Linked DNA regions of Homo sapiens. The protein of the gene in region 2 interacts with the protein of the main gene of each other region in a pairwise test. Each region holds a gene or a part of one and is shown on either strand. Other genes may lie near its edges. The genes, in order: PPM1F, AATK and PTPRR.

Region 1 (3,654 bases), on a different chromosome or scaffold from region 2:
CTCGGGACCCGTGATCAGGTTGAACCCCCTCACCTACCTCAGTGCCTGGCCTCGGCATCCCTGTCCTGCTCGTCTCTGGCCACGCTGGCCACCCTCTGCCAGGAACAGTCTTCCTCCTCTGTCACTTCTTGACAATGTCCACCCAGCTGCTGCTCCTGGCACCATCTCCTGAGACCGGATCTCTGGATGCCCACAAGTCCCCACCTGGACTCATGTCAAAACAGTGGCCAGGGTTGTCCCTCCACCCTCTAGTGGCCCTGAACCATGAGGCCATGCACCTGCCACATGGTGCTTGCAGGTGGGCACCTGCATTGCTGGTGCCATGGCCCCCTGATTCTGCTGACTCTGACATTTCTCCCCAGGGTGAAGCCTGGAGACCCTCTTGCCCTGGCCTAGCTGCAGGCCCCCGGGATGCTTTGGGCATGTCCTCTGGAGCCCCACAGAAGAGCAGCCCAATGGCCAGTGGAGCTGAGGAGACCCCAGGCTTCCTGGACACGCTCCTGCAAGACTTCCCAGCCCTGCTGAACCCAGAGGACCCTCTGCCATGGAAGGCCCCAGGGACGGTGCTCAGCCAGGAGGAGGTGGAGGGCGAGCTGGCTGAGCTGGCCATGGGCTTTCTGGGCAGCAGGTAGGCCTGTGCACCCCCAAAGGGGACGGGGAGTAAGGGCACGGCACCAGGGCCGACAAGGGATGTGGCTGCTGCTCCCCTACACGTCCAGCCCCACACGGGGATCTGCAGCCCCGGATCCCTATGCAGCACCATGTGGAACTCCCGTGGCTGCTATGGCAAAGCACCACACACTGGGCACTCAACACAGCCAAAGCTCATTCTTTCACAGGGCTGGAGGCCAGAGTCCAAGATCAAGGTGGCAGCTGCGCCATGCTCTCTCAAAGGCTGCAGGGAAGAGTCTGCCTTTCTGTTAGTGCCTGGCCTTGACTTCCTGGAGGTCCTTGGCTTGTAGACTCATTCCTCCTAGCTGGCCTTGTTGCACACGGCATCTCCCCATGTGTGTGTCTGTGCCTTCACACCTCCCCACCCTGCCTGCTGTGTGTCTGTGACTCCTCCTCTTGTAAGGACATGGGCATTTTGGACCAGGGGCTGCCCTCCTACAGTGTGATCTCATCTTTCTTTTTGTGGAGAATGGGGTCTCGCTATGCTGCCCAGGCTGGTCTCGAATTTCTGGGCTCCATGGATCCTCATGTTTTTGCCTCCCTAAATGCTGGGATTACAGGCATGAGCCACTCCAGCCAATGTGACCTCATGTGAACATAACTAATTACATTTGCAAAGACTTTAACTCCAAATAAGATCATATTCTGAGCCACAGGGGGCTGGGGCTTCAACATACCTTTTAGGGAACACAATTTATTGCATAGCAGCTGATAAGCAGTACGTCCTGTTTCCGATCCGTGTGATGGACGAGGAGGCAGAGGTGGGTAGATGAAGAGGCTGGCCTGAGGCCTTACAGTCAAGGAGTGGCAGAGCCACATGGCACCCCAGCCACCACGATCTGAGAGATAGCTGGCACTGTCCCCCTTCCACAGGTGAGGAAGCTGAGGCACAGAGAGGTAGCACAACTAGCCGAGCAGATTTCGGGGAAGATAGAGAGTTGGGTGTCCACCGGCAGACAGTGTGTAGCTGTCGCCTAGGCTGAACTCAGAGGTCCTTTCCTTGGAAGACCCTTGCCCTCCCCTTCATTTATTCATTCATTCTGGAAGCATTTGTCCCATGAAAGATGGTGAAGGACAAGGTCTTTTCTCGAACCCTCTCTGCTCAGACAGGGTCTTGGAGTTAGGCTGTCTGTCTGGCACAGGGGACAGCTCATGGAGGTGAGCAGGCTGGTGGGCCGCGTGCTGTTTCTGTGAACCTAGTCCCTTGCTGAGGGGATGTGCGCATGGTCCCCAGTCCCAGCATCACCCAAATCACCTGAAATATCACCTGAAGCCATGACAGGCCCTCAGCCATAGCTCCCTCTGACAGAGCCACCATCCTCGGTGGCTGCCTCAGTATCCCCCAAGTGTGCACTTCCTTTGCCCCTTGCAGCGAATCAACTCTGTTCCTGACACCCACCAAGGGCCTATTTTCCTTGACCCCAGGCCCTAGCAGAGTCAGTGACTTGTGCTCTCCCTGTGCAACATGGGCACAAACATTGCTAAGTGTCAGCCACATGCAAGGGCTATGCCACCCAGCATCCCCCACAGCTGCCTAGAGCTCAGGAGGAAATGTCCGGTGACCACGCTCCATGAGGTCATGGCATGCGCAAAGGGTGTTATTGGCTTGTTTTGAGGAAATATTTTAGATATGTGGCACAAAGTGAATCAGCCCCCAGTGGTGGAGCAGAGTGGGCCCAGCAGGGGTGCCAATGCACGGGAGGTGAGGAAAGGCCTCACGTTCTGCCTTCTTGAGAGGAGCAGGTGGCACTCTGCAGGGAGCAGGGGAGTCCAGACCAGGGAGTTCTGCAGCCACTGGGTCTTCGTGGAGGTGGCATGGGGCCATTGCTGCCTTGAGGCAAAAAGCCAGGCCCGGGACAGAAGGGTTGGTGCACTTTGGCCCAAGCATGAGGTGACCGGGCAAAGCCAAGCGGTGCCAGCCCCAAGCTGGGGATCAGATGGAAAAGCCATCCCGGGGAACAACAGAGCCCAGGGGTTTGCTGGGCCTGCGTGGGGCACAGGTGCTGAAGACGGACAGGCCGCAGCACCGGGGTGACAACATCAGCCTTCAGTTCCTGGGCAGGGGGAGAAGGGCGCAGAGCAGGGTCCCAGGGAAGGATCCAAGGTGGGAGGGCCTGGAGGGCTGAGGAGTGAGTAGGCAGTGCAGGTGACCTGCCCAGGAGGGCCCCGAACCAAAGTGTTGGGGTCAGTGCTGGGGGCGCAGGGGAGGGCAGTGGGTTTTGGTTTTGATGCGAGAGCAGCCAGACTTGTTGAGCGGCTGCTGTGTGAGCCACCTAGTGATGGGTGCGAGCAGGAGGGGTGCAGAGCTCCCGAGTCTCCTCAGCCCCCAGGAACCCACCTTACATGGTGAACTAAAATGGAGTATTTGAAGTTGTTATATGTTCCAGCCATCTTATTGGATTTATTTTTTAAGTTATTTTTGTTCTTTTCTAGCATCTTCTTTCACACGCAGGTGTGGATGTGCATAGGTGTAGTCAGCACTTGGGGTCTGAGCCTCACACGTTGTCTACACTAAGCCTGGCTGTCCACACACACGCACTCACATGTGCCCATACACAGTCACGAGTTCCACCTCCGAGCTCTGCTTCCCGTGTCCCAGCCTGAGGAGGGGCTCTTGGGCATGAAGGGCTTTGAGCATCTTGGTCCCTGAGCTCTTTCACAGACCGTAAAAGGCATCCTTCTGGAGGCCATCCAGGAGTCAGAACATCCAGTCCACAGGGGGCTATTTACGCCTTGTCTCCGCTCTTGTTTGGAGCCTCCTGTCACATATTTGAGTCCCTGAGCAGTGCATACCGTACACTAATGATTTGAGTGTGGTTTTTGTCTCTGCCACTAGACTATAAGCCTCTTGTAACAGCCCCTGCCCCAAGGTCGGTGAGACGTGTTTCTCAGGCACCTGGGCCTTGCATACACCTTGGCTTGTCCCTGGAGCATCTTCTTGCCTTGTGTAGGAGCCTGCTCTGCAGGGACCAGAATCAGGGT
Region 2 (2,367 bases):
ACCGACACGTCCAGCGACGGCCTGCAGGCCAGGAGGCCGGATGTGGTGCCAGCCTTCCGCTCTCTGCAGAAGCAGGTGGGGACCCCCGACTCCCTGGACTCCCTGGACATCCCGTCCTCAGCCAGTGATGGTGGCTATGAGGTCTTCAGCCCGTCGGCCACTGGCCCCTCTGGAGGGCAGCCGCGAGCGCTGGACAGTGGCTATGACACCGAGAACTATGAGTCCCCTGAGTTTGTGCTCAAGGAGGCGCAGGAAGGGTGTGAGCCCCAGGCCTTTGCGGAGCTGGCCTCAGAGGGTGAGGGCCCCGGGCCCGAGACACGGCTCTCCACCTCCCTCAGTGGCCTCAACGAGAAGAATCCCTACCGAGACTCTGCCTACTTCTCAGACCTCGAGGCTGAGGCCGAGGCCACCTCAGGCCCAGAGAAGAAGTGCGGCGGGGACCGAGCCCCCGGGCCAGAGCTGGGCCTGCCGAGCACTGGGCAGCCGTCTGAGCAGGTCTGTCTCAGGCCTGGGGTTTCCGGGGAGGCACAAGGCTCTGGCCCCGGGGAGGTGCTGCCCCCACTGCTGCAGCTTGAAGGGTCCTCCCCAGAGCCCAGCACCTGCCCCTCGGGCCTGGTCCCAGAGCCTCCGGAGCCCCAAGGCCCAGCCAAGGTGCGGCCTGGGCCCAGCCCCAGCTGCTCCCAGTTTTTCCTGCTGACCCCGGTTCCGCTGAGATCAGAAGGCAACAGCTCTGAGTTCCAGGGGCCCCCAGGACTGTTGTCAGGGCCGGCCCCACAAAAGCGGATGGGGGGCCCAGGCACCCCCAGAGCCCCACTCCGCCTGGCTCTGCCCGGCCTCCCTGCGGCCTTGGAGGGCCGGCCGGAGGAGGAGGAGGAGGACAGTGAGGACAGCGACGAGTCTGACGAGGAGCTCCGCTGCTACAGCGTCCAGGAGCCTAGCGAGGACAGCGAAGAGGAGGCGCCGGCGGTGCCCGTGGTGGTGGCTGAGAGCCAGAGCGCGCGCAACCTGCGCAGCCTGCTCAAGATGCCCAGCCTGCTGTCCGAGACCTTCTGCGAGGACCTGGAACGCAAGAAGAAGGCCGTGTCCTTCTTCGACGACGTCACCGTCTACCTCTTTGACCAGGTGGGCCGCCGCCACCCGGGGTCTGCCCGGGGCTGGGGGTCGCGCTCCCGCAGGAAGGGGTGGGAGCGGCCGCGGCTCCTGGCGGCCGAGCTACCTGGTGCTCTCTGATTCCTCCAGGAAAGCCCCACCCGGGAGCTCGGGGAGCCCTTCCCGGGCGCCAAGGAATCGCCCCCTACGTTCCTTAGGGGGAGCCCCGGCTCTCCCAGCGCCCCCAACCGGCCGCAGCAGGCTGATGGCTCCCCAAATGGCTCCACAGCGGAAGAGGGTGAGCAGGGGCGGGGCTGGGCCCGTGACGTCACGGGAGGCAGGGCCTGGTCCGTGCTGTGTGGGAGGCGGGGCCTAATGTGTGACATCATGGGAGGAGCACCTGGTCCTTGACGCGTGGGAGGCGGGCTTTGGCCCGTGTCGTCATGGGAGGCGGGTCTGGTACGTGACGTCACGGAAGGCGGGGCCTTGTCCGTGCTGCATGGGAGGCGGGGCCTGGGCCCGTGACATCATGGGAGGCGGGGCCTGGGCCCGTGACATGATGGGAGGCGGGGCCTGGGCCCGTGACTGTGGGAGCGGGGCCGGGCCGGGGTCCCAGGCTGTGAGCGCGAGTGACGCCGCGACCTGGGCTGCAGGTGGTGGGTTCGCGTGGGACGACGACTTCCCGCTGATGACGGCCAAGGCAGCCTTCGCCATGGCCCTAGACCCGGCCGCACCCGCCCCGGCTGCGCCCACGCCCACGCCCGCTCCCTTCTCGCGCTTCACGGTGTCGCCCGCGCCCACGTCCCGCTTCTCCATCACGCACGTGTCTGACTCGGACGCCGAGTCCAAGAGAGGTGAGGCCTGGGCGGGGCTGTGGCAGAAGGGCACGCGGGAGGCAGGGCACGGAGCTCCGAGGGTGGGGCCCCTCCGTCTAGGTCCTGGGCCGGGCCAGCCCCGGCTCCGCTCCGCTCCGCTCCTTCCCGGCCCCGCTCCTTCCCGGCCCCAGACCTAGCCTGGACCCCGCCTGGCCCTCGCCTGGCCCTCACCTGACCCTCACCTGACCCTCACCTGACCCTCACCTGACCCTCACCTGGCCCTCACCTGGCCCCTGCACTCGGCTCTCCTCTGCCTGACCCTACCCCGCAGACCTGCGGCAGGCCCTCTCACCGGAACCTTCCCAGCCAGAAGTCCCTGCAGACCCAGGTCCCACGGTGCCCCGGCCCCACGGTGCCCAGGTGGAGCCCTGCTGGGGGCCTGAGCCACCGCTCCCGGCCATGG
Region 3 (3,654 bases), on a different chromosome or scaffold from region 2:
CTCAAGGAGAGGATCGCAAGCCCCTGGAAACTCATCATCTTCCTATGTGCTCACAGAATGCTTCCTGCTTCCCTAAAAACTGCCTCTGTATCCTCTCCTCCCTTCTCCCCCCGCTTCTTTTTCCCTTCTTTCCTTGCCTCCTTTCCTTCTCCTGCTGCTCTTCTTCCTGTTTCTTCTCCTCCATCTTCTCCTTTCCTTTATTTTTCTTACCCATGAGTCCATCTCACAGAGTAAATCATAATCTTCCCATTTCCATGCCGTTTCACTGATGTCAAAAACCACCCCTTATATTCCCAAGCCTTACTAATCCTCAGTTTGCTCAGATTTCTGTCCAGGCTAGAACATTCTTCACTCAGCAGCCTATGCTGAACTGAAATGGCCTGTAGTTGCTACCATTCCACCATTTTCACTTGCACCTCTGGGTTCCCTCCTTCCTGGTGTTGTGGCCTTGTGTCTTGACAAATATCCTGAGGATCCAGTGACAAGAGCTATGGATTTTACAGCATACTTTCATCTAAAGCGGTATTTTTTTCCTCTTACCATAGTACTGACCTTGAGGCATTCAATATCTTCTCTACATTGTACTTGCACAGAAATCCTAATAACAGCTTCTTAATTGAGTTCCGGAACATAGTTAGCATTATTTGGGATAAACATTCTAATTGTGTTGTACTCTCCTTGTAACAAATAAACTATAAATTTTCCTGATTACTAATAAAAAGAAGAAAGAGGGAAAAAATTCATTTGTGGATAAATGCTCTTATGAAATGCTTTGCGGTGGCAATTGGGAATCAGGAAGGGAGGAGAGACACAACTTTCATGCCCTTTTTAAAGGTAGCATTCTAAAACTCATTGCCAATGATAGTTGAAACAAGAAAGAAAAAAGTATTGGAGGAAAAATGCTTGATCCTTCCTTCTGAGCTAGGAAGTCTTAGAAGTTACATATAAAGTTTAGAGGTTGAGTGTAGCTTTTTACCCTGGCTGGAAAAAAAATGCCTATAATTTCTCCAGTTCAAGACACTGATAGTCAGAACATGGTCTATTTGAGTATAAATTAAGTCTCAAAATAATTCTTAGTACCACTGCAATATCCCTCAAACAAGAAGGTCTGCATTGATGTATATGTTTTATACTCATGTACATATGATAAGCACAAACACACATCAATTATTCCATTAAAGTCATTATGCTGCCCCAGAATATATCCCTTGCTTCCTGTATGCCCCATCCATACATCCATTTTCTGTATGGAATGGGTCTTCAAATCAGCTGACATTTAATTGCATCACCCCTTTGCTTTTTGAGGAAGCTAAACATTATTGATTTATTTAAAAAATAACCCTGCCTCCCCAGTTTTGCTGCTAAATCATCATGCACATAAGTAATCTAAGTGGATTGCAGGAAACATTAGGACTGGCAATTGGTGTTGCCAGCTACCAAAGCCACAGCATGGTCAGAGGCTAGGGAAAGCTAATGCAGCAAAATTGCCTATTGCCTCTATGTAATCATCACCCCAAAGGAAAAGCACAGCTTCTTCATCAATCTCCAAACCACAAATAAGCTGAAAGTGAAATGACCTGCCAGAATTCCTCATTGGTGCCTTTTATTGTCCATGATATTAAATTAACTAGACAGTACATGACATTACAAGATAGAACAAGCCTCTTGAACTGTAATTCACAGTGACTTTAAGAGTTGATGACTATGGGTATATGATGGTCACTAAGGAAATATCTCCCATGAGCCCTAGCATTAACAGGAGCATCTCCAGATACAGAGACATCATTAACATCATTTATCTTCACTGAATAGACAGAGTACATGACTTTCACCTTCAGAACATCTGCTACTCATGTAAATGCAGAAAACTTGTTCAAGTATTTCAGGATGCCAAGTGACCCACATATTTTCTCTTAACAAGAGTTCATCTTGTGTTCTTAGCTTATGATTTTTATTGAATTATTGATATTTCCCTCTGGACATTTTCCAAGCAAAACAAGAGACTGTATTTCATTTGTCTCTGTTTCCAGATATCCCAAGGGGAAACTAGATCATAATAAATACTGAGTGTATGCTAGCTGAAAACATTGACGAATGGAACTTTGATTCTCAATATTAAGTAAAGTATACTATATGTAGTAGGTTAAAAAAATAAAGAAAAAAAAGAAGCTTGTTAGATTTAATTACATTTGGTGCATAGAGGAGTTGCCAAAATGCAAACATGGTTTCATTGAATTATCTTGGCCACACAAATCAACTCATTTGATTATATTTTGGAGCAGAGATGCAATAACAACCATTTAACTACTGATTTGTAGTTTCAATGTGGATCCTTCTATAATGATGTTAAACCAGAGAGTGACTGTAGTTCAAATAGGGTGTCAACCTCAGTATGTATTTAAACTATGATAACCTCCACAATTTGGAAACCTCTGACCTGGGTTATACAAGCAAGGGAACTTTAAGAACATAAGCAATGGGATCATTGTATCACTTTTATTAATAAAGAATGGTTATTATTCAGTAATATCAAAAATGTTATCTATCAATTACTCCCAACTCATTTTATTTGCTCCAGTGACAGAAAACTACTCTCCCTCTACCACACCTCCCCTTTCAGTTGTCTTATTTATTGTAATTTGAGTCAAGTGACCAGAGGATCTTCAATAAGTATTATTTATTTACACAGGCTGAGACTAAGGCCTATCTGCTTAAAACAGATTCTCACAGAAGGTAGGAGGCTCAGTACAAGATATAATCAACTATAATTGTAAGGCCTTCCTAAAGTAATCTTTTATTCAAATATTTATTAAGCATCTACCATGTACCATGCATTCTGCTATGAGCGGAGGATACAGACAAGTTTTCTGATTTCGTAAGAGGAAGAAAACAGACAACAGTCAAGTAAGAAATTAGAAGTACCACAGAATAAGTGCTGTGGTACATACCCGTTGGGATTCATTGATAACTATTCACAATCAGTGTTTTTCTTTTTTCAAGCATCAATGACAGGAAAGAATCAACATCAGCCTCAGCATCAGTTTAACATACTACTTACCACCACAATTACATTTGCTGCTGGGATTGGGAGATTTTCCACTTCAAGATCTTGACCATCCATGGCCAGCAGATTGAGAGACGGGTCATATGCGGGTCTAGGAAATGCTGAATTGACAATCTGGTGGCGTTTGCTTACTTGAGCTTCGGAAGAGGAATGGTAGCTATGTCTGTAGATTTTTTGTGGGGCTATATCCAGGCTCTTCTCAATGTCTTGTGAATGCTTATAAATGAATACCGGCTTCCCACTCTTCTTCTGATTAATTGCCAAAAAATGATCATTGTTTCCTGAAAAGCACCCTGAAAGAGGGAAGAAGCAGAAACAATATCAAAGACCCTATTCAGTAAGAGAGGTAGATATATCTGATGAAGAGGATTACCCTTTCTTGAGAGGCTTTAAGACTTGTGAAGGATTTAGGTTAGTCTCCATATTTCTTTGTCTGCTTCATGATCCTCAACAAATAGTATACACCTGGTGGTATGAAGGCCTCTCAAAGACTTTAGGTGGATAAAAGTGGGCGTACTTTGAAAAAGTTCTATTTTTCAGATATTCTGATGCCACTTTTACTAAGAAATTTCCTCCTTTATCTACACCCA

The links.
Region 1: the proteins of AATK (region 2) and PPM1F interact in a two-hybrid assay, tested with the Homo sapiens proteins (one study listed by BioGRID and IntAct).
Region 3: the proteins of AATK (region 2) and PTPRR interact in a two-hybrid assay, tested with the Homo sapiens proteins (one study listed by BioGRID and IntAct).

What each region holds. Positions count from the first base shown.
Region 1 is NC_000022.11:21,942,817-21,946,470, reverse strand, and holds part of PPM1F (protein phosphatase 1F), read left to right. Parts: intron 1-362; 5' UTR 363-422; coding exon 423-628; intron 629-3,036; exon of another isoform or gene 3,037-3,654. UniProt on the Homo sapiens protein: Dephosphorylates and concomitantly deactivates CaM-kinase II activated upon autophosphorylation, and CaM-kinases IV and I activated upon phosphorylation by CaM-kinase kinase. Promotes apoptosis.
Region 2 is NC_000017.11:81,118,956-81,121,322, reverse strand, and holds part of AATK (serine/threonine-protein kinase LMTK1), read left to right. Parts: coding exon 1-1,122; intron 1,123-1,239; coding exon 1,240-1,387; intron 1,388-1,742; coding exon 1,743-1,943; intron 1,944-2,367. UniProt on the Homo sapiens protein: May be involved in neuronal differentiation.
Region 3 is NC_000012.12:70,889,621-70,893,274, forward strand, and holds part of PTPRR (receptor-type tyrosine-protein phosphatase R isoform 1 precursor), read right to left. Parts: intron 3,358-3,654; coding exon 3,059-3,357; intron 1-3,058. UniProt on the Homo sapiens protein: Sequesters mitogen-activated protein kinases (MAPKs) such as MAPK1, MAPK3 and MAPK14 in the cytoplasm in an inactive form.